Linked DNA regions of Homo sapiens. The protein of the gene in region 2 purifies or fractionates together with the protein of the main gene of each other region. This does not show direct contact. Each region holds a gene or a part of one and is shown on either strand. Other genes may lie near its edges.

What was found.
Region 1: the proteins of TMT1A (region 2) and CCDC9 purify together in Homo sapiens (affinity purification with mass spectrometry; one large-scale study listed by BioGRID and IntAct). This does not show direct contact.

The regions. Positions count from the first base shown.
Region 1 is NC_000019.10:47,258,549-47,263,024, forward strand, and holds part of CCDC9 (coiled-coil domain-containing protein 9), read left to right. Parts: intron 1-10; coding exon 11-115; exon of another isoform or gene 116-162; intron 163-1,772; coding exon 1,773-1,874; intron 1,875-2,039; coding exon 2,040-2,291; intron 2,292-4,476. UniProt on the Homo sapiens protein: Probable component of the exon junction complex (EJC), a multiprotein complex that associates immediately upstream of the exon-exon junction on mRNAs and serves as a positional landmark for the intron exon structure of genes and directs post-transcriptional processes in the cytoplasm such as mRNA export, nonsense-mediated mRNA decay (NMD) or translation.
Region 2 is NC_000012.12:50,926,061-50,930,511, reverse strand, and holds part of TMT1A (thiol S-methyltransferase TMT1A precursor), read right to left. Parts: intron 599-4,451; coding exon 362-598; 3' UTR 1-361. UniProt on the Homo sapiens protein: Thiol S-methyltransferase that catalyzes the transfer of a methyl group from S-adenosyl-L-methionine to alkyl and phenolic thiol-containing acceptor substrates.

The DNA of each region.
Region 1 (4,476 bases), on a different chromosome or scaffold from region 2:
CCGGTCTCAGGCAGCCACACTCGATTTGAAATCAAAGGAGGAGAAGGATGCTGAGTTGGACAAGAGGATCGAGGCTCTTCGGCGGAAGAATGAGGCCCTCATCCGGCGCTACCAGGTGCCCTAGCCCCGCCCTGGGAGACCCCATCCCCTCTCTTCCCCGCAGTGAGTTTTTCTCACCTCTCCCTTCCTTAAAACCTTTTCATGGCTCCCCATCACTGTCAGGATAAAGGCCAAAGGCCTTAGCCTGACATCCCTTCTTTCATTCCATTATTCATTCATTCATTCATTTGTTCACAAATATTCCCCAAGATCTTTACCAGCCCCAGTGCTGAGTGGTGCTGGGGATATAGCTGTGACTGAGACAGACCCAGGCCTGCCCCCTCCAGGGTCCACCGTCTAGTCAGGGAGACAGCCCTGTCCTCAGGGATGCCCCAGAGCAGACAAGTCTGGAATCAGGAAATTCAGGGGTCTGTGGGAGTCCAGAGGAGGCTCTTGACCCAGCCTTGGGGATATCAGGGAGGGCTTCCTGGAGGAGTGGACTCTGAGGCTTGAGTGGTGAGTAGACAATAGCCAGTTGAAAAGGCGAGGGGAACATGTTTCAGGCAGAAAGAACAGTTTGTGCAAATGTTGGAAGCAAGAGAGAGCTTGGAGCTTCAAGTTGGAGGGTTGGTTAGGAGAGAATTGACCTGGGCAGGTCAGCAGGGGCCAGGCTGTGCTAGGCCCTGAATGCCACCAGGATGAGTTTGGACTTTGTCCTGAGGGCACTGGGGAGCCAGGGAGAGCCTTGAGCAGGGGTGGGACCGGTCAGAACAGCTCTTTAGGAAGACGCCTCTGGGTGCTGTGCGGTGGTGGGTGCGAGGAGGTGATACTGGAGCCCAGAGACCAAGGAGGAAGCTGGGGCTGGAACCCTAGTGGGAGAGGAGGTACCTGGCTCAGGGCAGGGCTGTTGAGAGGGACTCAGTTACTGATGGGCAGTTCAGGGCAGGGGGAGGAAGAGGGAGGATTTAGGACAAGGCTGCTGAGTAGGTGATGTGGCTCTCCCTGAGATGGGATCTGGGAGGTGGCATGGGTTTCATTTATTCATTCTTCATGTATTCATTCATTTTAAAAAAGGCATATTGAATTTCCCTTGTGGGCCAGGCAGCGTTCTAGACTTGGGATACACGTCAGTGACATACATCACTGAAAGCAGACAGACATTCCTGTCCCCAGGCAGATTCTGCCGTAGTGGAGGAAGCAGACAGTGAGCGAGACGCATATGGTGCTGGGTGCAAATGGGATGAGAACAGAGAGGGTGGCAGGGGAGCTGGTTTCCACAGGGTGCTCAGGGAAGGCCTCACGAGAAGGCAGCATTGGAGCAGAGACCTACAGGAGGTGAGGGGTTGGAGGGTCTCTGGGAAAAGTGTTCCTGGCAGAGGGATCCGCTGGCGCAAAGCCCCTGAGGCAGGTTTCAGCCTGGTATGTTGTGGGAATAGCAAGGAAGCCGGAGTGATCGTGGGGAGAGGGTGAGAGATGAGGTCGGGGAGGTACCAAGGCCAGACCCCACGGGTCCCACAGGCTGTGGGGAAGGCTGTTACTCAGAGGGGCACCACAGGAACGTTCTGAGTGGGGCTGCAACGTGCTGAGGTTTGAGGGATATGAGCGGCCTTCTTGTTCAGAGTCCAGGAGAGAGGCCTGGGCTGGGGCCAGACTTAGGAGGAGTTCAGGGGTCTGGGAGTCCGTCTGGCAGACAGGGCACCTGATGCTTCCCTACCCCGGCTGTCTGCTCCTAGGAGATTGAGGAAGACCGTAAGAAAGCTGAACTTGAGGGAGTCGCAGTCACAGCTCCCCGAAAGGGCCGCTCAGTGGAGAAGGAGAACGTGGCAGTGGAGTCGGTGAGCTCGTCACTGGGGTGTGGGACCCTGAGGATGGGGAGGGGCAGAGGGTTGAGGCCTGGGACCCAGGAGCCCCCAGCTGTCCTGCACCAGTGGGTGGCCTCCATCCTGGCCGCATGCCTCCCTGCCCCAGTGACTGTATTTTCCCCATCTCCCCTCTTCCAGGAGAAGAACCTGGGTCCTTCCCGGAGGTCTCCTGGGACCCCTCGGCCCCCAGGGGCCAGCAAGGGGGGCCGGACTCCTCCACAGCAGGGAGGCCGGGCCGGCATGGGCCGAGCATCGCGCAGCTGGGAGGGCAGCCCCGGGGAGCAGCCTCGAGGAGGAGGAGCTGGGGGCCGTGGCCGGAGGGGCCGGGGCCGAGGTTCACCTCACCTCTCTGGAGCTGGAGACACCTCAATCTCTGACCGTAAATCCAAGGTAGGAGCTAGGCAGCGCCTGGAGCCCTGGCTGAGGTTCTCTGTTGTCTGTTTCTGTTTTTTCCTCCTCTCAGATGCACATTTGTCCTGTGTGTCCATCTTTCAGTATCTCTCTCTGAGCCTTTGCATCTGGCTCTGTTTCTCTCTTCCTCCACCTCCTTCTCCTCCTCCTGCTCCCCCTCTTCTAGTTCCCCCTGTTCCTTCCCTCTCACGCCTAGAGCTCGTGTGTTTTTCCTTGTCTCTTTCTCTCCTACTCCTGCTCCCCGTCTTCTTGTTCCTCCTCGCCTTCCTTCCCTCCCCTCTCCTGCTTAGTGCTGCGTGTCCCTCCCTGTCCCTCTCTGTCTCCCTTTTTCTCGCTCTCTGGTGCATGCTTGCCCACTCATCCTCCGTCCCCATCTCTCCTCCCTTTCTGGCACTGTGTGTCTGTCTGGTGGGCTCTCTCTATCTGGTGTGCTTGTGAGCACAGGCTCTGTGTGGCATTCTGTTTCTGTGTGTTTCTCTTGGTCCCCGGCTTTGGTTATGGGGAGCAGTGATTTTACTGTAACTACCTCACTCACCCCTGACGTGCAGGTCAGCAGGGTGGGAGTCTGTCTAGCTGAGTGGCTTACAGCCCACCGTGGACATGGGTTGAATCTGGTTCTGTGAGCTACCTGGCCTTGGGCAGCTCACTTCCCCTGTGAGCTTCTGGTTCTAGCACTTACACGGGAATAAGAAAATTCAAAAATTAGCTGGACGTGGTGGTGGGCACCTGTAATCCCAGCTACTTGGGAGGCTGAGGCAGGAGGATCACTTAAACCTGGGAGGTGGAGGTCACAGTGAGCCGAGATCATGCCACTGCACTCCAGCCTGGGCGACAGAATGAGACTCTGTATCAAAAAAAAAAAAAAAAAAAAAAAATGCTGGGCGTGGTGGCTCACGAGGCCTGTAATCCCAGCACTTTGGGAGGCTGAGGTGGGCGGATCACCTGAAGTCAGGAGTTCGAGACCAGCCTGGCCAACATGGCGAAACCCCATCTCTACTAAAAGTACAAAAATTAGCCGGGTGTGGTGGCACACGCCTGTAATCCCAGCTACTCGGGAGGCTGAGGCAGAAGAATTGCTTGAACCTGGGAGGTGGAGGTTGCAGTGAGCCGAGATTGCGCCATTGTACTCCAGCCTGGACAACAAGAGTGAAACTCCGTCTCAAAAAAAAAAAAATAATTAGACTTAAATTGGGCATGCCAAGCTGCTGTCACACAAAGACTCCAAAAATTTCATGACCTAAGTGGAGTAGGAGTTTATTTCTCCCTTGTATGCTGAGCCCTGCAGGGAGGTGGGTGGTCCAGGGGGTGAGGCCCTGCTCCATGATGTCACTCAGGGACCCAGGTTCCTGCTTTTTTTTTTTTTTTTTTTTTCTTGAGACAGAGTCTCACTTTGTTGCCCAGGCTAGAGTGCAGTGGCATGATCTTGGCTCACTGCAACCTCCGCCTCCTGGGTTCAAGCAATTCTTGTGCTTCAGCCTCCCAAGTAGCTGGGATTACAGGTGTGCACCACCACACCCGGCTAGTTTTTGTGTTTTCAGTAGAGATGGGGTTTCGCCATGTTGGCCAGGCTGGCCTTGAACTCCTGACCTCAGGTGATCCTACCGCCTCGGCCTCCCAAAATGCTGCGATGACATGTGTGAGCTGCTGCGCCCGGCCTGGTTCCTGTTTTTGTTGCTTGGTGGCCCCTAGGTCCTGGTCATTGTCTGTGGTAACAGCTGGGTTGCCGACATGGTTGCGGTTCAGTTCACAGGAAGGGGAAAGATAAGTCTGCTTTATCACTTTTGGTCATGTCCTGTTGGTGAGAACTTAGACACCTGGTCATACCTAACCTCAAAGGAGACTGGGAAATGAAAACGTTGTCTACAGCTGGCTGGCTATTTGCCCATCTAAAATTTTGTCACTAGCTTGGTTACTAGTAACAAGTAGTTACTAGCTACTTGGAATGCTGGGTGCTGTGGTATGGGCTTGTGGTCCTAGCTACTTGGGAAGCTAAGGTGGGAGGATCGCTTGAGCCCAGGAGTTTGAGACCAGGCTGGGCAACAGAGTGAGACCCCATCTCTATAAAAATTTTAAAAATTAACTGGACGTGGTGGTGTGCCCCTGTGGTCCCAGCTACTTACTTGGGAGGCTGAGCCAGCAGGATCACTTGGGAGGCTGAGCCTGG
Region 2 (4,451 bases):
GAGATCAGGAGTTCAAGACCAGCCTGGCCAACGTAGTGAAACCCTGTCTCAACTAAAAATACAAATTAGCTGGGCATGGTGGTGGGCACCTGTAATCCCAGCTACTAGGGAGGCTGAGGCAGAAGAATCGCTTAAACCCGCGAGGTGGAGGTTGCAGTGAGCGGAGATCACGTCATTGCACTCCAGCCTGGGCAACAAGAGCAAAACTCTTTCTTCCCGCCAAAAAAAAAAAAAAAACCAACAACAAACCAAAAAAACCGCCCCCCAAAAAAAAGGTTTCTCTTCTCCCACTTAGCATTTTAAATGTAAAACTGAAGCTTTAAATTCTTTGAGCCATTCAGCTCTTAACTGCCAGCTCACACTATTTCACAGCATATCCATAGATATGAGGGCGCACCAACTCCCAGGACAGTGGGGCCTGGATGTGCTGCAGCTTCAGCTTAGAGAAGCTGGCCCGCTCCAGGGCCTTCCAGCTCTCTCTGGTCAGGTTGCACCCATCAAACAGAAGGTGCCAGGCAGGATCCAGGACTTGTTGCCAGAAGTAATTCCAAGTCGAACACTCAGCTGCCACATGCTCCATGAAATAGAAAGCCCCTCCCTGAGAAAGAAAGAAAAAAAAAAACATTTCAAGGATTTTTTCATTTCTGCTTTTTTAATTTATTTTTTGAAAATTGTTCTCTGGCACTGCCTTGCAAACCTGTGAGAGAACCGTAGAGTTCTGAGCAGGAGGGTCACTCCACACTAAGCACACCCTTGAGACTGAATAACCATGTTTTAAATTTTTGTGCCATTTTCACAAATATGTACGTGATATGATTAATGAAAATTCTGATTCATCTAAAATCATTACTGAATTCAAGGTAACATTTTGTCATTAGGTATTTTATTCAGTCAGTGGATGCTAAATGTAAATTACTCTTTGTAGGAATTAGCAACTGCTGCTTTCATTGAGGAGTTTTATAAATGTTGATCAAGTACAGGCACAATAGATGTTATTACATGTTATGTGTGGGGACATCTTCAGAAGTTTTCTACATATCTACCTCTGAGGGGAGTAAGGAGCAAGGGACCAGACAGTCACCTCACAAAATTGTGGTAACTGCACCACTCTTCTTGGCCTCCTCTAGTTATCCTAGTCTTGGCTCCTCAGGCAGAGTTTAGAGAGAGAATTCAGTTTAGTGATGGAGTTTCCCCAAATTATATGGGTCAGTGTAAGACCTATGTTACGAATAGAAAAATTGGAATTTCCTGATTTATTTATTCATTTATTATTTCTTGAGACAGGGCCTGGCTCTGTCACCCAGGATGGAATGCAGTGGCACAGTCTCAGCTCACTGCAACCTCTGCCTCCTGGGCTCAAGCAATCCTACTGCCTCAGCCCCCCAAGTAGCTGGGACAACAGGTGCACACCACTACACCCAGCTAATTTTTTTTTTTATAGAGACAGAGTTTCGCCGCATTGCCCAGGCTGGTCTCGAACTCCTGAGCTCAAGTGATCCTCCTGTCTAGGCCTCCCAAAGTGCTGGGATTACAGGCGTGAGCTACCGTGCCCGGCCCTGATTTTAAAAAAAATCTTCATAGGATAGGGCAGCATAAAGGAGGAGAGGCAGGTTTGGGGAGGTCAGTGTTGCCCTCTGGTTTACATATGTTAAGAGGTGCCTCTGAGCAATCCAGGAGACTGTTGAGTAGACGGCTGGATATGAAGGTTTGGGGTCAGAAGAGAGACCTGGGATAGATGTTTAGATTTGGAAACATCTGTATATATGTGGTATTTGAGAACTGTGGAGGTATATGAGATTGCTGGGGAGTGTATATAAGTGAAATGAACCAATGAAAGGAGTTAGCCAGCTTGCTTTAGGCAGACAGTAGGGAAGGGTCCCGGAAGAACTTCTGACCAGTCCCACAAATGGTTACATGAGATGTTTTGTGCAGATAAGGGAACTTGCACAGGGGCTTGCCTAAACATGCCTGCAGCCCACTAAGGCCCCACATGCACGCTGGGGGAATGGGGTGGAGCCACCAGGAATTCATGCCTTTACAAACAGGGAATCCAGCTCCATCAGCTTTTCAGTTGCGAAGGGGGCAACCAGCAACCTGTTTTCAGGACCCCTCTTTTTGCTGAGAGCTTTCTGTTTCGCTTGATAAATTCTACTCCACTCACTCTTCCATGTTCACGTGCCTATTTCTTCCTGAATGTGAGACAAGAACCTGGACCTAGCTGAGCTAAGGAGCAAAAATCCTGTGTCACCAAGAAAGGAACCCCAGTGGTAGGAGATGGGTAGAGGAAGAAGAGCCAGCAAGAGTGATAGCAATGTTGAAATCAGAAAGATGAAAACCCCAATAACAAGCACTGTGGTACAGTGGTAAGAATATTTGCATTTGCATTTGGCTGGGCGCGGTGGCTCACACCTGTAATCCCACCACTTTGGGAGGCCAAGGTGGGTGGATCACTTGAGGCCAGAAGTTGGACACCAGCCCGGCCAACATGGTGAAACCCCATCCCTACTAAAAATATAAAAGTTAGCCAGGCGTGGTAGCATGTGCCTGTAAACCCAGCTACTCGGGAGGCTGAGGCAAGGAGAGTCACTGAACCTGGGAGGTGGAGGCTGCAGTTAGCCAAGATCATGCCACTGTACACCAGCCTGGGCGACAGAGCAAGACTCTGTTTCAAAAAAAAGGAATATTTGCATTTGCATTAAAGAGAGCCATGTCTACTAGCTGTGTAACTTTGGGCAAATTCCTTAATCTCTCTGAGTCTGTTTCTTTGTCCTAACATGAAGATATGTACTTTAGAGGACTGTTGACAGGGTTAAATGAAAATGTAATAAAGTTCCCTTGTTATATCCAGCAGAGAGTGGGTGCTTGGCAGGAGCTAAGGAAGACTATCACGAATGTGATAACTTTAAGAGTTCAATTGATTTTTGGCACTGGAAAACTGAGATAATAATTACCTGCCTTGCAGCGGTGTTGGGAGATTAGTAACACTGTAAGCAAAACATCTACTAATGTGCCAGTTGGTGCCCAGTCTTAGCATATAAGAACCCAGCATTTGGGTATAAGAATCAGTCCTTTTTTATTTACTACTCTGATATTGAGCCAAGACAGGATTGTATGATTTTCCCTAAACCCTATCTCCAAGTTCTTTTCTTCCTGAGGAACTTCCTCTATTAGAAAATAAAACTGATGGTTGGGCATGGTGGCTCACACCTGTAATCCCAACACTTTGAGAGGCCAAAGTGGGCAGACCACTTGAGCCCAGGAGTTTGAGACCAGCCTGGGCAACATGGCGAAACCTCATCTCTACAAAAATACAAAAACTAGCTGGGTGTGGTGGTGCATGCCTGTAGTCCCAGCTGCTGGGAGGGTGGGGAGGCTGAGACGGAAAGATTGCTTGAGTCCAGCAGGTCAAGGCTGCAGTGAGCTGTGATCATGCCACTGCACTCCAGCCTGGGTGACAGAGGGAAACCCTGTCTCAACAAAAAATGAAAACTGGGGATTACAAAACATGCCTTTCCCCCAGAAGAGTAAATTCAAATGTTAAGATATCCATATCTTCAACTTTGTTCAGAATATAAAACGATTTTAAACTAGCTAAAAATAATAAGGGTAATATGTGAAAACTACATACAGGTATAAAGAATTACAGACTTTACGGAAAGGTTTAAAATGAAAAGTAATTCTTTCCCTGAATCCAATCCCATTCCCCAAAGGCAACCACTGTTAATAGTTACTTGTCTGTCATTCCCATTAACTTATACACATATATGTATCTCCTCTCCCTGCCTCACACAATGGGCATGTGGTGGGCCTACGCTCTACCTAACATTCTGTGGCTTGATTGCTTTTTGTTTTCATTAAACATTATCCCTTGGGGATTTTTAAGTATCAGCACAGATAACTCTTCTTGTTCTTTCTGACAGCTGCACAGTGTTCCTTTATACAATATGACAACTCACTTACATAGCATCCTATTGATAGACATTTCAGTTATTTCCAGTTTGTGCAATTACAAATTCTACTTAATATTCTTGTGTATGGACAAGTTTTTGCATGTGGATAAAAGAGTATGTGTGGTTTAAATTTTGATATTATCAGATACCACCCAAAGAGGGTACCTCTTCTAATGTGTATGGTGGTGTCCAGTCCCCTAAACCCACCCCAACCCTATACTGACCTTAAAAGAAGTCCCTAACAGTATAATAGGTAAAATTAGTATCTCCTTTAATTAACTCTTTAAGTTTGAGCACTTTTGTCCTATAATTGGTTTACATTTCTGTTCCTGTTATTTGCCCATTTTCCCTTTTGTTTTTCTTATTGAAAAATATTGATCTTATTGACATGTAATGTCTTTTAACATGAGGGAAGTTAACCCTTTGTCTATCATCCCTGGCAAATATTTTTTCCAAGCTTGTTTTGTAGTTTAACTTTGTTTTGGGGAGTTTTTTTTTCTT